Linked DNA regions of Homo sapiens. The protein of the gene in region 1 interacts with the protein of each later gene in a biochemical or structural test. Each region holds a gene or a part of one and is shown in the gene's direction. Other genes may lie near its edges.

Region 1 (7,281 bases):
AAGTGATCATCATGTAACATAAGAGCAGTATTACCAGGTCATGTGTCTCTGTGTGTACCTTGCACATACCTGTACCTACTGGCCTTTTTTCCTTTACCTGTTTTCGTAGTCCAACAGCATATAACTCCTGAAGGCATGGACACATAGGGATGTGCCTTTCTGTGTCCCTGTGACACTTACATTGATACCACGTATATAGTGGATGCTGAAGAATGTTGGAGATTCTTTCAGTGATTTTTGTGGTTATTGAACTCTTTAGGGTGAAAAGAATCCTGTCTCGCCAGACTAGAATGATCTCACCATGAATTACCAGTTGCTCAATCAATAATCTGTTCGCCTGGCCTTGTGTGAGGCCCATGGTGGGTAAAAAAGAAGTAAAAGACCTGCCCTCTCTTTTGAGGATCCAGTAATCTGCCTTTAGACTTGGGTAAGAAACACTGCAACTCTGGGCCCTGTGGGTTAGAGGACTGCCTCTGACGCCACTCTGGCCATGCCTCCCACCCCACTGTAAGAGTCTGGGACTCAAAGCCATATGCTCCCTCTTCAAGACCATGTTCCAGGTATTCAGGGGCTGGAATTCCCTACTCACGCATCCCCAAGACCACTTCCAGGGCCTGACACTTGGGGATGAGCAGGGCTCCAGGTACATATCTCCAGGCCTGCAGGGTGACAGCTGCTTACAGGATGTAGGGTGGAAGGAGCTTGGAGGAAGCAGCCTGGGGCATGCACGGGGAGTGCTTGAAGCCAGCGCTGGTGTGGGATGGCGCAGGATAGCAGAGAAGGTACTGGGCCTCCACCACATGTCGATACGGAGTGGCCAGGAGCCCAGGATTCTAAATTAAAAGCTGGACCTGCAAGGCAGCATTTGGAAGCCACATTTGTCCAGATACAGGAGATAACACTTTTTCGTTTCAGGGCTTATCAGATCGATTGAAACCTTTAAATGATTAGCCCTGTGGGAGGTGGGCCTCCATCGCGAACTCTCATTCCAGACTCTACAATGTCAGCGGCAGGCTCTGCTGGGCCGTCAGCTTCCCTCACCTCCGCACGGGTCGGTCAGCAGACTGCACACCCGGAAGGCCCAGGCCTTGGTGGAGGGGTTTCTGTGCCTCAAGGCTGTAGGGCAGGGGAGGGGGCCGTGCCTCTCTAAACTGCCAGAGCCTGTTTGCACACCAGCACTTTACCGCGCTTGGCGGCCGGGGAAGTGCTAAGCCTGTCTTCATTAACAAATACCATGTTGCCTTGTTTCCTTACTTAAAACACTTTGGAGTGTTTTGGCTCAAGTTGAGGGGCTCTACATGTGCAAATGCATAATCAGCTGACAGCAGTTTCAAAATTGCAGGTCTCACTATTGATGGAGAAATGGGAGCGTTGTTATTCCTTGTGTGTAATTTTCTCCAAGAAATGGGGGGATTGATTTAATGTCAACACTCAGAGATTTAATGTGGCCCTGTTACTGGAAAAATACACCTTTGCCAAACTCTGCCTCAAAACAATGTCTACATTGTCTTGCTGCACTCCCTACCCCCATTTCCCATTCCTGAGAAAAAACGGGCTTGAAGGAGGGTTCAGCTCAATACAGGGCTGGATCCTGCCCTCTGTCTCCGTTTCCTGAGCACAGATGGCTCATCAGCGGGGCCTGTCTCTGCCTGGAGGGATCCCACCACCTCTGTTTCTGAGGAACTTGGGTGGGAGGGAGTTAGTGGGGAGAACAAGAGTCAACGAACAGGGTGGGGTCAGTTTTAGGCTCTTGTGTTCAACCCAGCAGGGAGGCGGGGGCGGGGGACTCCCTCCAAGCCTTAGGTCACTATGGGGCTTCCTGGCCCAATTTGCCCTCACTGTCGCAAAAAGGCTTTATGGTGTGTGTTTCAAATGAAAAGAAATTCAATTTGATTTTATTTTGAAAATGCAGCGAGGGGCTGGGCATGGTGGCTCACACCTGTAATCCAGCACTTTGGGAGGCCGAGGCAGGCGGATCACAAGGTCAAGAGATGGAGACCATCCTGGCTAACACAGTGAAACCCTGTCTCTACTAAAAATACAAATAATAACAATAATAATAATTAGCCGGGCGTGGTGGCACATGCCTGTAGTCCCAGCTACTTGGGAGGCTAAGGCAGGAGAATTGCTTGAATCGGGGAGGCAGAGGTTGCAGTGAGCCGAGATCGTGCCATTGCACTCCAGCCTGGGCGACAAGAGCGAGACTCTGTCTCAAAAAAAAAAAAAAAAGAAAAAAAAGAAAAAAAGAAAAGAAAAGAAAAAAGAAAATGCAGAGGGGATGTCAGGACTCCCTTTGAAGTGGATAATTGGTACTACTCAGTGGGGTTCATGGAAACCAAGGTGGTTCATCTCTGGGGACTAGCAAGAAAACCAATGTTTATTGGAAAAGTGGCTTTGGCCACATGTTTCTTCTAGCTATTAGTAATTTGTTCCTCAAATCAAGCTAGTAAGTTAAGGATCTGCTTTCAACTTCTTCCCGCTGAACTGCCTGGCAGGCACCCCCTTTTTCTCTGGCAAGTGATGATTTGGATGTGCACACTCACTAGAACCAGCTTCCACGGGTTTTGCTCTGAACCACACCATCACACTCCTCCTGCCAACGCCAACCATAAACGAAATTGGTCAATGGTTTCAAGCCTTCTTCATCACGCGGCTCTTCTGAGGCTGGTTCCACTTTCAGCTGCATGGCCAGGCCCTCACCCGCCTCTCAGAGGTCACGGAGTGTTCCTTCTGATGTTTGTCTCTTTGAGGAAGCAACTTTCAAAGGCCGGGATGCATCTCTAATGACTGTAATTGCATTTCCCATCTTCTCATTAGCACAAACTGCTGTGCACATGGAAGAAATTCAGTCAGAAACCTCAGGTCTGGCCTCAGGCTGCGGGGTAGGCAGGTGATCTGATCAGGGCGAAGACCCAGACCAGCACGTAGGTTGCCCCACATGCCCTTGGCACAGGAAGAAAAGCCTCTGGAACAGGTGCTATGGTTGTCTTTAATTCTTTCTCGGCTTTCCATGGAATGAGGAGGAGGCCCAGATGGTACTTCCAGAGCCGAGGAGCAGAACCCGGCCCGGAGGAGCTAGGCCGGCCGTGGTTTGGTCTTGAAGAGAATGAAAGCCCACCCATGTTCACAGATCGCAGAGCCCCAGGGCGTTCAGGCCACACCTGCAGCTGGTGCCTTGGGTGAGGCTAAGGGGCTCACAAGTGCAGGCACACATGCCCAGACGCCTGCTGGGCTCCAAGAGTGCTGGCTGCTGCCCAGCTACCCAGACCCTCCATGTCCTTCCATGCCCTCAGCCCCAACTCTCTTCCTGGGGGTTGTGGAGGGCAGGGGGTGCACAGTTCACTCCAGAACCTTCCTAAGACCCAGAGCTGTAGTGGGGAGGGTTGTGAACACCAGTTTCTGAGACCTTTTCAGCCAGGCGGTGGTTCTCGCTCCACACCCTTGGGGGCCCCTGAGCAGGGAGGCCTGGGTGTGCTCACCTAACATTACCCTGTGCTTTGCAGACAGACGGTGCCCTATGGACTGTCCAACTACAGAGGAAGCTTCCGGGGCAAGAGGTCTGCGGGGCCACTTCCAGGGAATCTGCAGCTCTCACATCGGCCACACTTGCGCTGCGCTTGTGTGGGGAGATATGACAAGGCCTGCCTGCACTTTTGCACCCAAACTCTGGACGTCAGCAGGTATGACACCTCCTCCAGTTTCACTCATTTGCAGATATGCATCAACCCTCGGCAAGGCCAGGCCAGGGGCTTCTCAAAGGAGGGTGTAGGATAGTTCAGTCACATCCTGACCTACTGTCGTCCTGTGGGCCAGAGAAAGGAGGTGCTGAGCCCAGAAAAGACCCAGGTCCTCAGCATCAGGAGGGCAGGAGATGCAGCGTCCCCACCCCCTTGCTGCCTTTTGGAACAGAAGCTTCACAGTGGCCGTGGCTACATCTGGTTTCCAGACATATGTTTTTCTGGCCTGCACAGCACTTTGTGAAAATCTGAATAAGTTGCCAACACTTAAAAGATTGAAGAATTAACCCCTGCCAAATGCGTATTTTTAGCCTTCTCGAAAATAGCCCATGATAAGAGTGCAAAAGGCTTATTGGGAGGGGGGGGAACCCAGCACGTAGGACCATCTGGTCTCAGAGCCCCCCTTCTCTTTGGCCACCCTCAGCTGGAACTGAGTGGGGGCATCTCACGTTTGAGTAGGATGTGCAATATCCATTTACCTGTTACCAATTTATCTTACTTTGTAGCCCCTGGAGGCCCCCAAGTTTGAGACCCTGTGGTCTGTCCTGGCTGCCTTAGGGAAGCTTGCAAATCACGTTGAATGGAACCAACAGGCAGACTCCATGTTTGACCCAGGGGCTTTGAGCTGGTATTCACATAACAGGTATTCCTGTTAATGCTCCTTACTCCATCTTTTTCTTAACTTCGGGCCAAGATTCATGAACCCAGTGAGGCAGATTGGCCCTTTCAAAACCCTTCCTGGAGCAGGCGTAGGTGAGCTGCCCTGATGCACACAAAAGACACATAGGCAGGGGTGAGCTCCCAACACCCCAACAAGGCAGACGGTAGCGCTCAGGACCCCAGGATCTGCCGTCTGTGAAACCCAGTGTGAACTGCATGGTTTTTCCCCCCTTCTGGGCTTTTAAACATCCGATGAATAAGTGAGTGGTGAGTATATTCTGTACTTTGGTAGAAATCCACCCACCGAGTGCTCAGCCTTCAGAAACTGTGCCTGAGACGCAGTCCTTGGGGAACGCACTAATGTGCTCATTGGTGGGGAAGAGGAAGTCATAATTTGACACCGAAAAACCAGCCACAGGGAAAGGCAGGTTGATTGATTAAAACCAGCTCTCTCCCCACAGTAATTCAAGGACGGCAGAAAAAACAGACAAAGAAGAGGAAGGGAAGGTGAGAGGTGCCAACAGAGGCCTGTGTCAAAGGAGGTGAAGATGTGACGTGTCATTCCTTCGGGGGTGGGTGGAGGGTGTTTTGAGGGGATGGCATCTGGTCTGGTCCAGTGGGAACCCCAGATCTCATGGGATGCTGCACCCACAAGCAATGGTGCCTTTGGTGGACCGTTTCTGGGGGCAGAGCGGGCTGAAGCTGTGGACAGCTGCTGTCACTTGTCGGTCCCTGGCCACCCTGCTCTGTGTCCTGGGAGCCAGCCCTTGCATCCCTTGTAGCTCTGGGCAGTGATGTCCTGCCTGGATTTCACCTGGCCTGGACAAAGCTAGTCAACCACCGCTCTCAGAGGCCCTGTAGGCTGCTCTGCCCAGACCCACACTTCGCCTCTGCTTCCTTAGCAACATGTGGTCTTTCTCGTCAAAAAAATCATTTATTCTTTTCAGCAGCTGATTCTGGGCAGAGGTGAATTACAGCAGCTTGACAGCAGGGTCCCTTGGTTCTCCAGTTCATTGTATTATTTTTTTTAACCCACTTGTCTTTTTTGTATGAGAGATCCTGAGGGTTTCCTGCAGTCAAACTGGGTTTATTTGTCATTCTATCAATCAGAAGTCATTATTAATGACTCCGCAGCTCATCTGCAATGGGATGGTAATTTATGTTCATAATAATAGCCTGGAGGTGGCTTGGGTTTCTACAGAGACTGATCGAGGGAAGATGAAACCATGCTCAGTATACAGGAGCTTTCCAAATTGGTGGCAGATCGCTTCTAGTCTAGTCCAGAGAGGGATCTGTCAGCAACCATAATAAAAATGGAGCGGGAGGAGGAGGGCCGAGGCGGAAGAGACAGAGCCCGGGAGAGCATGAGTCAGACCCAGATGGTCCCACTTTGCCTCTTCATTCTTTTTCCTCTTTTTCTCTTCCTCACCCCAAACCAAAGCTCCTCTCAGCGAGGGCGGGATGTAATTAAACCCATCCATCCATTGCATCATTTATTCATTCGCTTATGCATTCGTTCAGCAAAGACTTGTTGGGCACCTGCTACGGGCTGGGCACCATTCTCGATGCTGGGGACATAGCAGGAACAAGGCATAGGATCTCTTTTATAGAGCTTAACTAGTGGGGATGCAGACAGCAAACATGTACAATTTAAAGTGAGATTGCAAAGAATAACAGAAAGACACGGCAAGGGTAGGAAGCGTGGGGTGGTTGCAGTTTGAGATGGGGTTGACGTGGCCTCATCTTTCTCACCAGGTGACCTGAAGGAAGGCTGGGAGGAGCCATAGGGATGAGTGAGGGAAAGGGATTTCAGGTAGGGGAACCGGTGAGTGCAAACGCCCTAGAGTGTGCTCAGGGAACGGCCAGAAGGGAGCCCTATATAGGAGAAGCACACCGGTCCTTTTGCTGTTGTGGTGATTATTACTGTTCTATGTCACATGTTCAAAAGATGCAATTGGTGGTGCAGATGTCCCAGCAGGGCCTGGAAAAGTGGTTCTTCCAGGTCTCTATGAGTCATGTAAAGCTCTAGTAAGAAGCTTTACTTGGGAAGAAAAAGTCTCTTATTAAGCCAATGTTCTTGCTTTCTTGCAAGATTCAAGTTAGTAATTCCCAGATTCACATTCTCAGAGTGGAAGCTGTCACCATCCTTAGCTTGTGGTAATCAAAGATGGGGCCAGGCTGCGGGAGGGCCCCTAGCAGCCTTGTCTGCTGGTGTTATTCTTTTCACACTTTTCCAGTCTGGTGGTAGGCTCGGAAATTGCTGAGAAGCACTGGGAAGAGGGTACATACAGTTCCAATCAGGGAACAGGCTGGAGAGGCAGTGGGAAGACGTTCCCTTTTTCAGCTTCACAGAACTACAGAGCTACACTTTCATAACATACCTTTCTTTTTTTTTCTTTTGCCCCCTTTCCCCAAGACAGGTTGAAGTCAAGGACCAACAAAGCAAGCAGGCTTTAGACCTCCACCATCCAAAGCTCATGCCCGGCAGTGGACTCGCCCTCGCTCCATCTACCTGCCCCCGCTGCCTCTTTCAGGAAGGAGCCCCTTAGGAGGACAGGCCTGCAGCATCCTGGTCTCGGGAGGCTTCTGTCATTGCTCACACACAGTTCAGATTTCCACCTCTTTATAGACAAGAAGTGAATTTGCCTGGGGCAGAACACCCACCCAAAGAGTCCCCACTTAACAATACCCCCCCCCCACGGCAAGAATGCCCAAATCCGAATGACCCCAGTTTTCCTAATGAGTAAAATGATCCCAGATGTGCCCCAGAGCATGACGCCTGCAGCTCCGGTTTCATGCAGGAAATTGGTTTTGGAGAGTTTTGGCAAGTTGGAAAGCCACTTACTGGCTTTTGACATGACTTCTCTTGGAGAATAAGTGGACT
Region 2 (7,126 bases), on another chromosome or scaffold:
AGGGGGCTGGCTTAACTATTCCCAATGATTATTTTCTATTGAATATATAAGGAGACTAAATAAAACTTTATGAACTGTATATATCATGATAAGTAAAAGAATCAAGGACATAATGTGAAATTGAAAATGAAATTGCTATTTCCTTGTTTCCTATTAGTAAAAAGAAAAAAAAAGTGCTGCCTAGGTTACATAATTTCCTCTCCAACACAGATATATCTAAAGCAATATGAAAAAGATAACAGAGAAGAAAAAGAATAAGAGATACGACATAAGTCAAAAGCAGATTTTGTCTTTTTGCGAGGTTAGATTTATATGTTACTGAGCTAAATGGTTAACCTAGACCTTTTCGTATCTGTTGTTCCCATTAAACAAACTTGCTAAAAAATGAGAACTTCATCTAAACACTAAGTTATCTTTACATATTTAGGTGTTATATTTCACACAAAAAATACTCTAAGGATAAGTTTCTTATGTGAAGACAAAGCATTGAATTACCAAATATTTCAAATTTTGCCTAACTACTTAAGTTTTTGTGCATGCTTATAACACATTGTCTTAGAGAACTGAAATATTTTTGGGAAAATTTGTTTTATTTAACATGACTATTTATTTGTTCAGTAAGTGTGGCCTGAAAGATTCTGTATGATATATACAAACTGGATCTAATTTAGAAGATAATCATTCCCTGATGAATTTTTTTAAGTTTAACATTTGTTATATAAGATTTTCTTACAGAGGAGTATTAATCGTAAAAATTCTCTCATCCCTATAGTTTTACAAGACAGCAAAAGATTGGTGGCTATTCAGTTTCTATTTCTGCTTGCCATTGGCCATCACTGCATTTTTTTATACACTAATGACCTGTGAAATGTTGAGAAAGAAAAGTGGCATGCAGATTGCTTTAAATGATCACCTAAAGCAGGTAAGAAAATACAAATATTTGATAACTCGTGGTTGAATTTATAATTATGAATATGAAAATTATGATGATGATGATGATAAACTAACATTATTATATACCAGAGCATATTTCCTTTTTCTTGTTTCTGGTAGTTTTAAATAGATAAAGAATATTTTTATATTATTTATTTGGAGATATTCTATATAATCTAAAAGGATCTAGGGAGAATCAGAACTTTTTAAAGATGAATCTCTAGTCACTTCGGTTCCACTTCACATTAACTATTCCATATAAAGCTCAGTGTCCTGAGTTTTTACATATGCCACTGACTTTTTGTAGACAATATTAAATGTCGTTTTAGAAGATAGAATGCTATGAGTAAAATGAGCCATCTTTTAAGGGTCAAACTATGGATTTATTTCAGAGACGGGAAGTGGCCAAAACCGTCTTTTGCCTGGTCCTTGTCTTTGCCCTCTGCTGGCTTCCCCTTCACCTCAGCAGGATTCTGAAGCTCACTCTTTATAATCAGAATGATCCCAATAGATGTGAACTTTTGAGGTAAGAAAGGCAAACTAGAAATGGTTTTGTAAATAAATGCCACTCAGAAGTGTTTCCATCGATCTTTTTTATAGGCAGAAAGACAGACTACCATTTTTCTAACCCTTAGGAAGTCATGGAGACTCCCAATTTTTATCTGAGGTCCTGTTGAGAGGGACAGGGAAGGGGGGGTATGAAGAACACTGGGTACAGAGAGTCAGAGTTGTCAAGATGATGAGTGAGTGCCAAGGCGGAAAATGTCAGGTCCGATTCTCCAACGCGTTTTCTAAATTTCTTCTTTTCAGCCAGCTTCAGTACTTCCAAATGAGATTTTATTTTAAAAGAGAAGAATTGGGCCTGGGAAGGGGAAATGGAGGAAAGTCAGTAGAAATGCTAGAGTTAGAGGGGGACACAGACAGAGACAGGCAGAGAATCATTGTTAGCAAAGACGAGTGATAAATTTAGAACCATTGTATATTGGCATTTTTTTTCCTTACAAAAGCACAGAAGCTACAATGACTACATGTTCAGAATAGCATATTTTTCAGACACATTTTGGGTTATTTTGTTGCAGCTTTCTGTTGGTATTGGACTATATTGGTATCAACATGGCTTCACTGAATTCCTGCATTAACCCAATTGCTCTGTATTTGGTGAGCAAAAGATTCAAAAACTGCTTTAAGGTAAGAGACTATCCCAAAATAAAAAGCTCTTTGTAATATGGCTCAAATATAAGCTTTCAAAACTGCTAATATATCTATCCAGACAGATTTAGTAAATTATCTTATAGTTTCCCTTTTATTACATCATGGATGATTTTTTTAAATACAACTTTTGCTTGTAAATCACTATAATTGTTTTTTCCTATAAATCCTAGTCAGCCACTCCCTACTGCCTCAGCCAATCAGTTACACTCATGGAATTGTTGACCAAAAAGTAATAAAAATTACATGCATTGATGTCTGATAGGCATCACATAATAAAATAAGGGCTAAACATGAATTAAAGGCCCTGTTCCCTGTTTTTGGTAGATTCTGAACTTCGCAGCTGCAATTATTATTATAACTAAATTAGTTCCTTTTTCACATGGACTGTGAGAATAGCAAGGTAAACAAAAAAAAAATAGTTTAGGTTTTACCTCTTTCTTCCTTTTTTGTATAACAGTGATGTGCTGTTCAATGTGAAATACATATAATTCCTTCTTCAGCTGCTTGCATTTTATCATCCTTCTATTCATTCACTCCTTCAACAATCTAACATGAAATAAAATATCCCCTCCCCTAATGTGAAAATCATCCATTTGTCCATGGTATTTCACTACTGGAAAGCTAAGAACGTAGCTCCCGCGTAAACACTAAGGCAGCCTATAACATTCTTCGCCCACTCATAACTCAAATTTTAGAGTTGGAAGAGAACTTCCATCAGGATCAACACCCTCATTTTATAAGACATAAAACAGTGGACTTCTCATTTTCTTTTACAAATAGAATGAACAGAAGACAAGCAGAATGAAAAAATTTTTATATTTAAAAAAACTTCAAGAAAAAAATTGAAGAAAACTGAGATGCTTTTGTACTATATAACCTTATTGTTTACCAATATTGAAAAGAGATATGAGAATACATGGCTGAAAAAATAGGAAAGCAGTATTAAATTCATTGACATGAGAAGATATTTATGTCACTGTCAAGTGAGAAAAAGCAGGTTAAATCTTCTCAGCAAAGTGGCTTAGAATAACTTGGGATGAGGTGTTTGTGAAAGTATCTACAAGGTTATGGAGTATACATACAGTACAGTCTCAGTAAAATAATTATACTCACATTCTCCAGCACATGCACATATACATGTGTATAATTTATTTATTTCATGTATGTGCAAATATTTCTGTTTTCATGGGGAAAAGTCTTGAATTATATGTTTATCAAATATTATCAAATAACCAAGAGTAAATATCAATTAAAAGTGGCTTTCTCTTGTTGAGAAATTTTAACTATGTAGGTTTTTTTCTTCTCTGCATTTTTTTAGTTAAAAAATTATCATATGCTACTACTGTGATTATATTCTTTTAAGAGGGAAAATAAAAGAGCACTGAAAGAAAGGGCCCAAGAACTCCTAATCATACAAAGAAAGTCAGAACCCTGGAGAGGAGGAAGAGTTGGGAAAGGTGACTGATGTTAACATATAATGAGTTACTTTGTTTTGTACAGTCATGCTTATGCTGCTGGTGCCAGTCATTTGAAGAAAAACAGTCCTTGGAGGAAAAGCAGTCGTGCTTAAAGTTCAAAGCTAATGATCACGGATATGACAACTTCCGTTCCAGTAATAAATACAGCTCATCTTGAAAGAAGAACTATTCACTGTATTTCATTTTCTTTATATTGGACCGAAGTCATTAAAACAAAATGAAACATTTGCCAAAACAAAACAAAAAACTATGTATTTGCACAGCACACTATTAAAATATTAAGTGTAATTATTTTAACACTCACAGCTACATATGACATTTTATGAGCTGTTTACGGCATGGAAAGAAAATCAGTGGGAATTAAGAAAGCCTCGTCGTGAAAGCACTTAATTTTTTACAGTTAGCACTTCAACATAGCTCTTAACAACTTCCAGGATATTCACACAACACTTAGGCTTAAAAATGAGCTCACTCAGAATTTCTATTCTTTCTAAAAAGAGATTTATTTTTAAATCAATGGGACTCTGATATAAAGGAAGAATAAGTCACTGTAAAACAGAACTTTTAAATGAAGCTTAAATTACTCAATTTAAAATTTTAAAATCCTTTAAAACAACTTTTCAATTAATATTATCACACTATTATCAGATTGTAATTAGATGCAAATGAGAGAGCAGTTTAGTTGTTGCATTTTTCGGACACTGGAAACATTTAAATGATCAGGAGGGAGTAACAGAAAGAGCAAGGCTGTTTTTGAAAATCATTACACTTTCACTAGAAGCCCAAACCTCAGCATTCTGCAATATGTAACCAACATGTCACAAACAAGCAGCATGTAACAGACTGGCACATGTGCCAGCTGAATTTAAAATATAATACTTTTAAAAAGAAAATTATTACATCCTTTACATTCAGTTAAGATCAAACCTCACAAAGAGAAATAGAATGTTTGAAAGGCTATCCCAAAAGACTTTTTTGAATCTGTCATTCACATACCCTGTGAAGACAATACTATCTACAATTTTTTCAGGATTATTAAAATCTTCTTCTTTCACTATCGTAGCTTAAACTCTGTTTGGTTTTGTCATCTGTAAATACTTACCTACATACACTGCATGTAGATGATTAAATGAGGGCAGGCCCTGTGCTCATAGCTTTACGATGGAGAGATGCCAGTGACCTCATAATAAAGACTGTGAACTGCCTGGTGCAGTGTCCACATGACAAAGGGGCAGGTAGCACCCTCTCTCACCCATGCTGTGGTTAAAATGGTTTCTAGCATATGTATAATGCTATAGTTAAAATACTATTTTTCAAAATCATACAGATTAGTACATTTAACAGCTACCTGTAAAGCTTATTACTAATTTTTGTATTATTTTTGTAAATAGCCAATAGAAAAGTTTGCTTGACATGGTGCTTTTCTTTCATCTAGAGGCAAAACTGCTTTTTGAGACCGTAAGAACCTCTTAGCTTTGTGCGTTCCTGCCTAATTTTTATATCTTCTAAGCAAAGTGCCTTAGGATAGCTTGGGATGAGATGTGTGTGAAAGTATGTACAAGAGAAAACGGAAGAGAGAGGAAATGAGGTGGGGTTGGAGGAAACCCATGGGGACAGATTCCCATTCTTAGCCTAACGTTCGTCATTGCCTCGTCACATCAATGCAAAAGGTCCTGATTTTGTTCCAGCAAAACACAGTGCAATGTTCTCAGAGTGACTTTCGAAATAAATTGGGCCCAAGAGCTTTAACTCGGTCTTAAAATATGCCCAAATTTTTACTTTGTTTTTCTTTTAATAGGCTGGGCCACATGTTGGAAATAAGCTAGTAATGTTGTTTTCTGTCAATATTGAATGTGATGGTACAGTAAACCAAAACCCAACAATGTGGCCAGAAAGAAAGAGCAATAATAATTAATTCACACACCATATGGATTCTATTTATAAATCACCCACAAACTTGTTCTTTAATTTCATCCCAATCACTTTTTCAGAGGCCTGTTATCATAGAAGTCATTTTAGACTCTCAATTTTAAATTAATTTTGAATCACTAATATTTTCACAGTTTATTAATATATTTAATTTCTATTTAAATTTTAGATTATTTTTATTACCATGTACTGAATTTTTACATCCTGATACCTTTTCCTTCTCCATGTCAGTATCATGTTCTCTAATTATCTTGCCAAATTTTGAAACTACACACAAAAAGCATACTTGCATTATTTATAATAAAATTGCATTCAGTGGCTTTTTAAAAAAATGTTTGATTCAAAACTTTAACATACTGATAAGTAAGAAACAATTATAATTTCTTTACATACTCAAAACCAAGATAGAAAAAGGTGCTATCGTTCAACTTCAAAACATGTTTCCTAGTATTAAGGACTTTAATATAGCAACAGACAAAATTATTGTTAACATGGATGTTACAGCTCAAAAGATTTATAAAAGATTTTAACCTATTTTCTCCCTTATTATCCACTGCTAATGTGGATGTATGTTCAAACACCTTTTAGTATTGATAGCTTACATATGGCCAAAGGAATACAGTTTATAGCAAAACATGGGTATGCTGTAGCTAACTTTATAAAAGTGTAATATAACAATGTAAAAAATTATATATCTGGGAGGATTTTTTGGTTGCCTAAAGTGGCTATAGTTACTGATTTTTTATTATGTAAGCAAAACCAATAAAAATTTAAGTTTTTTTAACAACTACCTTATTTTTCACTGTACAGACACTAATTCATTAAATACTAATTGATTGTTTAAAAGAAATATAAATGTGACAAGTGGACATTATTTATGTTAAATATACAATTATCAAGCAAGTATGAAGTTATTCAATTAAAATGCCACATTTCTGGTCTCTGGGCTGGACTGTGTGTTTCATTGTTGTGAAGAAACAGATATACAGACATGCAACTTCCCAAGGTTGATTTTCCGGGTAATAGTTTCCAATGGCCTCTTTGGTCTTCCTTTCTTTGGTTCCCTGCCTTTGGAGCACTTCATTGTTTCATCATTATTGTACCTTAGCAAAGGTGAAAGTTTGAAATGAGGTTTAGGGATTGCTCATTGCATTTCACAAGCTTTTTTTGAGTGTTTTCTATGTGAAAGATGAGATGAAATTCACAAAATGCAAGGTCCCTACTTGATAAGAGACAGTGATGATAAACTTTAATATGAGGCAAAATGAAATGAGCACTAAATAACTGCATACTGATTGCTGCAGAAGTTCACCTGTCTGTGTCTCTCAGCATGTAATCCCTTTCTTCACCCAACAAAAATAATCCAGAATTAGCAATTGCTTTTTTCCCAGACAGTAAGGTCAAACCCAGCCGAGTATTCCAGAGGTTGCTATCATTTACCCCTGACCTTTCCTGGATTTCAGCTGCCTAATTTTAGCTGGCACTTCAAAATACAAGTGTTCTGAATCCCAAGGGCCATATGAGAAGTACAGAAAAGGATAACATAGGAAATACTCTCGTAGAGCAGTTGCCAA

What was found.
Region 2: the proteins of EDN3 (region 1) and EDNRB form a complex in vitro, tested with the Homo sapiens proteins (one study listed by BioGRID).

What each region holds. Positions count from the first base shown.
Region 1 is NC_000020.11:59,317,514-59,324,794, forward strand, and holds part of EDN3 (endothelin-3 isoform 1 preproprotein), read left to right. Parts: intron 1-3,503; coding exon 3,504-3,680; intron 3,681-4,844; coding exon of another isoform or gene 4,845-4,858; coding exon 4,859-4,904; coding exon of another isoform or gene 4,905-4,943; exon of another isoform or gene 4,944-4,969; intron 4,970-6,152; exon of another isoform or gene 6,153-6,210; intron 6,211-6,813; coding exon of another isoform or gene 6,814-6,817; coding exon 6,818-6,946; 3' UTR 6,947-7,281. UniProt on the Homo sapiens protein: Endothelins are endothelium-derived vasoconstrictor peptides.
Region 2 is NC_000013.11:77,894,854-77,901,979, reverse strand, and holds the end of EDNRB (endothelin receptor type B isoform 1 precursor), read left to right. Parts: intron 1-772; coding exon 773-922; intron 923-1,325; coding exon 1,326-1,459; intron 1,460-2,012; coding exon 2,013-2,121; intron 2,122-3,645; coding exon 3,646-3,780; 3' UTR 3,781-5,421; coding exon of another isoform or gene 5,422-5,538; 3' UTR 5,539-6,493; downstream 6,494-7,126. UniProt on the Homo sapiens protein: Non-specific receptor for endothelin 1, 2, and 3. Mediates its action by association with G proteins that activate a phosphatidylinositol-calcium second messenger system.